Homo sapiens: one gene and its partner. The protein of the gene in region 2 purifies or fractionates together with the protein of the main gene of each other region. This does not show direct contact. Each region holds a gene or a part of one and is shown on either strand. Other genes may lie near its edges. The genes, in order: SATB2 and NR1D2.

Region 1 (3,821 bases), on a different chromosome or scaffold from region 2:
AAAAAGGAACAACCTCAAAGCATCTTATCCTCACTTAAGCTCAATCTTACCTTCAGCATATTAATTCCCAGAACTATGTTCTTCTCCAAATTCTACGAAATCAGGGCTACTGATTTCTTCAGGAGACATCAAAAATTTGGAGAGCTAAGCTTCTGCCAGTTGGCAAAAGCAGCTTTCAATCAGCTACCTGAATTATTTTAGGAGGCTGGAGGCATCACTATTTCCAAAAGCCATACTGCTAAATCAACAGGAAGATTACAGGCTTTTGGAATCAAGTTCTCAGACTGTGGTCTTCAGTTTTTCTTGAAAGCTGCTTATAAAAGAAGGACTGTGTGAAACTTTGATATTTACATCAAGTCACAACTAAGGGGCAGGTTTGCAAAATCAATTGTGCAGCTTTTATACTCACTGCACATTTACCACATATGTCCTTTATTACACAGTGGAAAACCATTAAATGCACAGTAGTTTTGCCAAGTGGCATTATGCATTTAACAGCTTTATTCGTTTAACAGCTCCAACTCTCATTATATTTTGCCATGTGGTACATGGGATTTTATGCATTTAACAGTTTAAGAAGGCTCTATGGTATTTTCTTTTCATGTATTTCATACTATGGTTGGACATTATGTCTTAGCAAACTGTATTTCACTGATTTCATTGAAGAGAGAAAGTCAGAGTAATCTGGAAAACTTACTACACTGAAATTGAAAAGGGAAACAAACATTTCAATCCCTTTCCAAGTTCCTTGATATTCTACTCCCCTCCTTTTATCAACATCTAAAAATAACCTATATCAGGTTAAAACTGCAGGTAAAGAAGGCTAACCCTGTACTCTATAATTAATCTAAATATAACATTTAACTACAGTTTGAAGTTTTTCAGTTTTAAAAATTTAATTTTTATTGAAAACCTTCTTGCTTAATAGAAATACAATACTCAGTCACTTCCTTTCTTTATAGCACACAACAGAAGATTTGTTAGGGAGATGATCAACCATTTGATTATTTACATATGTAGGGATGAAAACATTTGTCATATAAGGACACAGAGGAAATCAAGCTCAGAATCAAAGGACTCTCAAAATTATGCTTTAACTAACTTTTATTTCCTCCACTCTGCATTAGGTGTTCGCCCTAGGTATACATAAGTGAGCATGCACCTCAAACCTAGGATTCTAGGTTTGGGCAGAAGTTGTCCCTTTAAATGAAGAATTGAAGCAGATAGTAGATCCCATCAACTGTTGCTGCTTTCAGAAATAAAAAACCTAAGCATCTGTCTGCTCTTTTCCCCAGAGCATTACATTCTCCACAATCCCAGAACTCTGAAAAATTTTACTGGATAAGCTTCTGTGTTTTTCTGTTAAAAGATTTTAGCACTTACTCTGCACTCCCCCCACGTGTGTTTTCTCCTGAAAAAATCAACTGTATTCTGTACATAAAAGAAACACCTGACATCAAAAGGTGTCTCTGGGGCTGGGGAAAAGTGGTTATTATAACAGAGTTGGACATTCCCCTTGTGGGAACAGGAAAGGTGATGAGACTTGGCTAAAACTTGGTCTCAGAAAGGTGCTGTTATATACATTCTAAGTTTTGTTCATACACACACACACACACACACACACACACACACATATATAAAGGGAGAGAAACAAAAGGGTACATTGCAGTGTTTAGAATAAGGAGAGAAATCATTCGAGGCTAATTTTTTTTAATCTTTAAAAGAAAAAAGGTCAAGTTTTGGCTTCATCTCTATTTTGAACTCCAATGGGAATAAAAGCAAACTAGAGTAAAAGGCAGAACATGACAGGTTTCTTGGGGGTTATTACTGTTATTATTATTATAGGAACAGATGTATTTTTATTGGTGGAGGAAGGAGAAGGATCTAATTCCAGCCCTCGATTTTGCTTTTTTAAAAACCACTCACCTGACTTTTATTTGCAGCCACTTTGGCAAACAGGGCTTGAGACACCTTGGCCCTTTTCATCTCCTGTTGGATCTCGTCATAAATGGCAGCTGTGATGTTGATGTTGGCGCCGTCCACCTTAATAGGGAGGTCTGTTGTCGGTGTCGAGGTTTTGGCCTACCAAGAGACCATGAAAATAATAATTTAAAAAGTGCTGCATTCAGCCCAGCCATCTGTGCAGAAATTATCAAAGGATTTCAGTCAGCTGATGCCAAACTGCATTAGCTACAGAGGGACACTTCCTGTCCATTATTCTAATCAGGTTAATTGTGATTGGAAATAATTGCAGTGCATTCCTATAGGACATGCAGAATCCTGTCAACCCTGTTCTCTCACAGCATCCCAGACGAAGGTTCACAGGTAGGATGGCTCTCCTAGACACCAAACTATAAGCAACCATCTAACTACAAAACAAACATGCAGAACACACACACAGTTAACCTTTTCTTTCTAAAAATGGCACACCTTGGAATAAGAGCCAATTCTTCCAGAAAAAAAATAAGTAAATGGGTAGAGGTCTCTAAATAATAAATTATTACTCAATTTAATGCACTCCCAAGTCTCTCTTATTCTTTATTAAAGCTTTACATATGTCATTCGAGTATGTATGGTTTCCCATCATTATCATCATTATGCTACCCAGACAGTCACCTAATTTCACCTAGGAAATCAGTGGAAATGAAACAAAATTTCATTTCATAAAACTAGGCTTCACAATGCCTTTGATGTGCCGTTTTCATTTTCTTAAACTCATATTGCGGTTTTATGTATTCTGCAGTGCTCGTTTTAATTGAATGATTTCCCATCAGCTTCAGAGACAAATGAAGGACAATATAGAAGTCTGTACTTCTTGGGGTTAGGATAACCCTAAAATGTCTGAATCTACTTAATCCAAAAGACGGTCATAACATTTACTTGGTGTGAGCCCTAGAATGCATTGCTGGTGTCTAATAAGAGAGGGCTGAGACATTTTCTTAGAACCTCTGGCAGCAAGATTTCAGGAAAAGACATCCTTGATCCTTGTGCACTACCAGCCGAATTGGCCTAACCTGGGTTTTTTCTCTTTGTCCCCATTCACCCTAGAATCTCAAACCAACAGAGTTATCTCCAAATCACAAGTTTCCCTGTGCGGATGCCCTGAGCTGTTCTCTACTGGATCCAGCAGTATGCAGGTCCAGAGAAAGATGTAACAGGCAGTGTGGACTCTGTGACAAATGGTGTCTAGCGGCAGAACTTAAGGCCCTACGTTTCCATAAAGGCTTTGCTTCCTAACAGTGCTCAGTAACTTCTGCCATTTTTCTTCTACCTCCTTCTCTCATACTATTTTCTAATTACCGCAAAGCAATAATTACTATAATTTATGGCGTGCTTTTTATGGGCCAGGTACTCCAGAAAGCATTTTAACATTTGTTTTCACATTTAATTCTTTTAAGATTCCAATGAGTTAGATATTATTATTTTCATCTTACAGATGAAGAAACTGAAATAAAAGAGGATCTTAACCTAGGACACCCAGCAGCCAGTGAAGGAACCATGATCTGAACGCAAGTCTTTCAGGCTCAAAAACATGGGCTCAGGACACTGCACTACACACTGCCTCCAAAATCTCCAATTTATGCCAGGTGCTGTTGTAAGAATTTTCTTGCTATGTTGGGACTTTCCCATTAAAAATTCAATTATCTGTAATTTTTTAAAATAAACTATTTGTTCTGCTCAAAATTTCTAGTTAACCCACAGTGCTTTCCCTGTTAAGAGAACGTTTTAGCATAGCATGTCTGCCCTTTCTCAATTCAGTTTTCTTAATTTGCCTCACTGACTATCTCATCCTACCTGATTGGTCAAGCCTTCTCTCCAAC
Region 2 (3,821 bases):
TCGATTAATCTGATGTCAACTCAAACCAATACTAATTACTTATCAAGAGATTCTGCAAATGATAGGTAAAATGCAAGAGGCATTATAAATTAGCTATAAAACAGATATCCCTTATTGACATATTCCTTTCATACTACTCCCACGTCATATACACATTTTTAGTTATCCAGGTAGAGCTGGTCAGAAAAGGTAGCCAAATTATGTTACCAAATGGCAAGTCTTTATTCCACTGAGGTACAGGTCCTCAAAATTATACAAATAACTTGTTTTTTTTTTGTTGTTTTTGTTTTTGTTTTTTAACACGGAGTCTCGCTCTGTCACCCAAGCTGGAATGCAAGCTGGTGTGATCTCGGCTCACGGCCACCTCTGCCTCCCAGGTTCAAGCGATTCTCCTGCTTCAGCCTCCTGAGTAGCTGGGACTACAGGCACGTGCCACCATGCCCGGCTAATTTTTGTATTTTTAGTAGAGAAGGGGGTTTCACCATGTTGGCCAGGCTGGTCTCAAATTCCTGACCTCAGGTGATCCACCCACCTCAGCCTCCCAAAGTGCTGGGATTACAGGCGTGCACCCCTGGCGCCTGGCCAAGAACTTGTTCTCTTTCAAGAGCTACTAATTTATGGTTTAGCTACATAATCAGAGGCCGTAACTTATAACTCTCACAATGCCTAGCACAGTGCCCTTTACACAGTAGGAAGCAAATGGGAAACAAAGTCATAACCAAATACTAAAAAATTCCCAAATGTTATACAATAAAATGATGCCTAAAAATAGCTGGCACTTACTTAGACATACCCAGGAAAGTACCTCAATTTCCATTTGTTATTGGGAGTAACAATCTCTGCCTTAATGGGTACTGTCAGAAATAACTGTAATATTAATGCAAGATGGCAGGGGCATTGGGAAACATCATAAATGACTCATATAAATAAACATTAGAAACTCAAAAATCTTGCTCACTCATTCAAACAGTGACTGAGTAGCTCTTCTATGCCAGACACCACACTAGGCTCACATGGTACAACCCCTTCCTTTGACAGGATGAGGAAGGAATCCAAGACCCAAAAGAGTAAAGTTACTTACCCAAGTTACCCACATAATTCAATGGCAGAACTGGACTAAAGCCTACAACTAATTCACATTTCTCTGCAACAAACCACACTAATACCTCTTGATACTTTTAATGTTTTCAAGTAACCCACATTGTATTTGAATGGAAACTGAAATTCATATTACAACTACCTACCTGGAGATACATAATGTTCTAACAAATTCATGAAATAAAGATTTAGACTCATAGAAAAATTATGAACAAAAAGCTAAAGACTAACAGTGGTAAACACAAGGCCTAGATGTAAGTATTACTTTATTCCTATAGTACTTTGACATATATTGTTATAACGAAAAAATTAGTTACACAAAAATAACAGGGTCATACAATTTAGCATCTTCCTTAAGGCCTTATTCCCTCTATATAACTTTCTGGAACCCTGTTAACTGCCATCTTCTCCCCAGTTGGTCACTATATGCTAGGTGTGGCACAATTTTGAACCAGCTTGCTTACCTGCAGATACCAGGACAACAGCTGTAAACAAACTCATCTCTTCATCACTAAGTTGGAGGGCATTTAGCTTCTCACTAAATTCAAACATAGAGTTTAGCAGATCCCCTGCTCCCATTGAGTGTAAATCATCCACACTATATTTCTTTCCACTTAAAAAGGTGACAGTACGTTCCTTTGCATCAAATAATGATGCGAACCGTACCATTAAAACCTGGAAAAAGAAAAAGAAATGTATTTGGAGAAGTCTAACAGCAATAATAAAAAAATAACTTAGTATTCAATCAAGTCAGTTATGAATCATCCCACATATAAAAGAAAGTTATAAAAGAAAAACAGGGTATACTTTTACTCAAAACCACTCTATTCTATTCTATTCTATATTCTATATTCTATTCTATTCTATTTTTGACATGGAGTTTCGTTCTTGTGGCCCGAGCTGGAGTGCAATGGCATGATCTTGGCTCACTGCAACCTCCGCCTCCCGGGTTCAAGCATTTCTCCTGCCTCGGCCTCCCAAGTAGCTGGGATTACAGGTGTGCGCCACCACGCCCAACTAATTTTTGCTATTTTTAGTAGAAGCAGGGTTTCACCATGTTAGCAAGGCTGGTCTCAAACTCCTGACCTCAGGTGATCCACCCGCTTCAGCCTCCCAAAGTGCTGGGATTACAGGTGTGAGCCACCATGCCAGATTTTATTTTTTGAGATGGAGTTTTCTTCTTGTCACCCAGGCTGGAGTGCAGTGGCACGATCTCAGCTCACTGCAACCTCTGCCTCCTGGGTTCAAGCGATTCTCCTGCCTCAGCCTCCCAACTAGCTGGGATTACAGGCACACGCCACCACGCCCAGCTGATTTTATTTTTAGTAGAGATGGGGTTTCACCATGTTGACCAGGCTGGTCTCAAACTCGTGACCTTAGGTGATCCACCCATCTCGGCTTCCCAAAGTGCTAGAATTACAGGCATGAGCCACAGCGCCCGGCCTATTTATTTATTTATTTATTGAGACAGGGTCTTGCTCTGTTGCCCAGGCCGGAGATGCAATCACAGCTCACTGCAACCTGAACCTCCCCGGCTCAAGTGATCCTTTCCACCTCAGCCTCCTGAATAGCTGAGAATACAAATACATACCACCACACCCAGCTAATTTTTGTATTTTTTGTAGAGACAGGGTTTCACCATGTTGCCTAGGCTGGTCTCGAACTCCTGGACTCAAGTGATCGGCCTGCCTCGGCCTCCCAAAGTGCTGGGATTACAAGCATGAGCCACTGCACCCGGTCCCAAAACCACTTTCTTAAGACAGATTCTCTACCAAAGCAATAAATACTCCAAGAAGAACATCAAAAGAAATTCTAGCCACTCATGGCAAAGATACTCTGCCACTCTATTAACAAAGATTCTGAAATGCAATATAAAATTAGAGCAAGAAATAGTGCCAGTAAATTTAAAACTGGGCCCTGGCCAAAGGCATTAAAGAATCTCTTTAGGCTGCCAAGTATAACACATGGCCTCTATGCCTTAAGTAAAAAGAGCAAAATTCCAATGCAGCAACACTTCGAAACATCAACACATCAAATGCAGCCAAGGCAAAGGAAGCAGATGAAGTCTAACTGAACTGCTTCAAGAAACCAACACCCAAAGAGACTATCCACAAAGAAAGCTATCACAGTAAGTGTTCTAAGCACCATGTTATAATTGACATCCAAGTTAAATCGGTTAACAATTATATTACTTAGTTATCTCACTCCCTCCGTTATAATAAATCCAGGGAGAAGTGAAAATATAGCCCTGGCTCACTTCTTCCATCCATAAAAGGTTCAAAGATTTGGCCCACCAAACATCAACTTCCTCTCACCACCCCAATCTCAGAGTTGTCCTTAATTAGGTCCCAAGGCATCTCACACCTTGGCAGCAAAAGGGATGCCCTGGGGCAGACAGAAGGTGAAAGACACCTAACTAAGGACCAGGAGAGGCACATCTGTTAAGTTATACAGTAGAGACTACCCCAAGCCCAAGCAGGATACAGTGTTGCAAGAGAAGCGGGACAGAAAAGTAGCCAAGGATCCTGAAGCAAGGTGAAACCAGGAAGAGCTAAGGTGGCACATAAGAAATGTCTGATATATCCCCAAAATATTCTACAGTCTCTCGAAAAACGAAATCACATTCTATTTGCCCTTCTTATTCTGTATCGAATACAGTAAATGCTAGGCTAGGCTTTCAGGAGGTGTCTAACACTGCAGAAACTTGTTAAGTCCACATCTAA

The links.
Region 1: the proteins of NR1D2 (region 2) and SATB2 purify together in Homo sapiens (affinity purification with mass spectrometry; 2 studies listed by BioGRID and IntAct, with this or other methods). This does not show direct contact.

Annotation. Positions count from the first base shown.
Region 1 is NC_000002.12:199,321,877-199,325,697, forward strand, and holds part of SATB2 (DNA-binding protein SATB2), read right to left. Parts: intron 2,083-3,821; coding exon 1,927-2,082; intron 1-1,926. UniProt on the Homo sapiens protein: Binds to DNA, at nuclear matrix- or scaffold-associated regions. Thought to recognize the sugar-phosphate structure of double-stranded DNA.
Region 2 is NC_000003.12:23,965,765-23,969,585, reverse strand, and holds part of NR1D2 (nuclear receptor subfamily 1 group D member 2), read right to left. Parts: intron 1,774-3,821; coding exon 1,563-1,773; intron 1-1,562. UniProt on the Homo sapiens protein: Transcriptional repressor which coordinates circadian rhythm and metabolic pathways in a heme-dependent manner.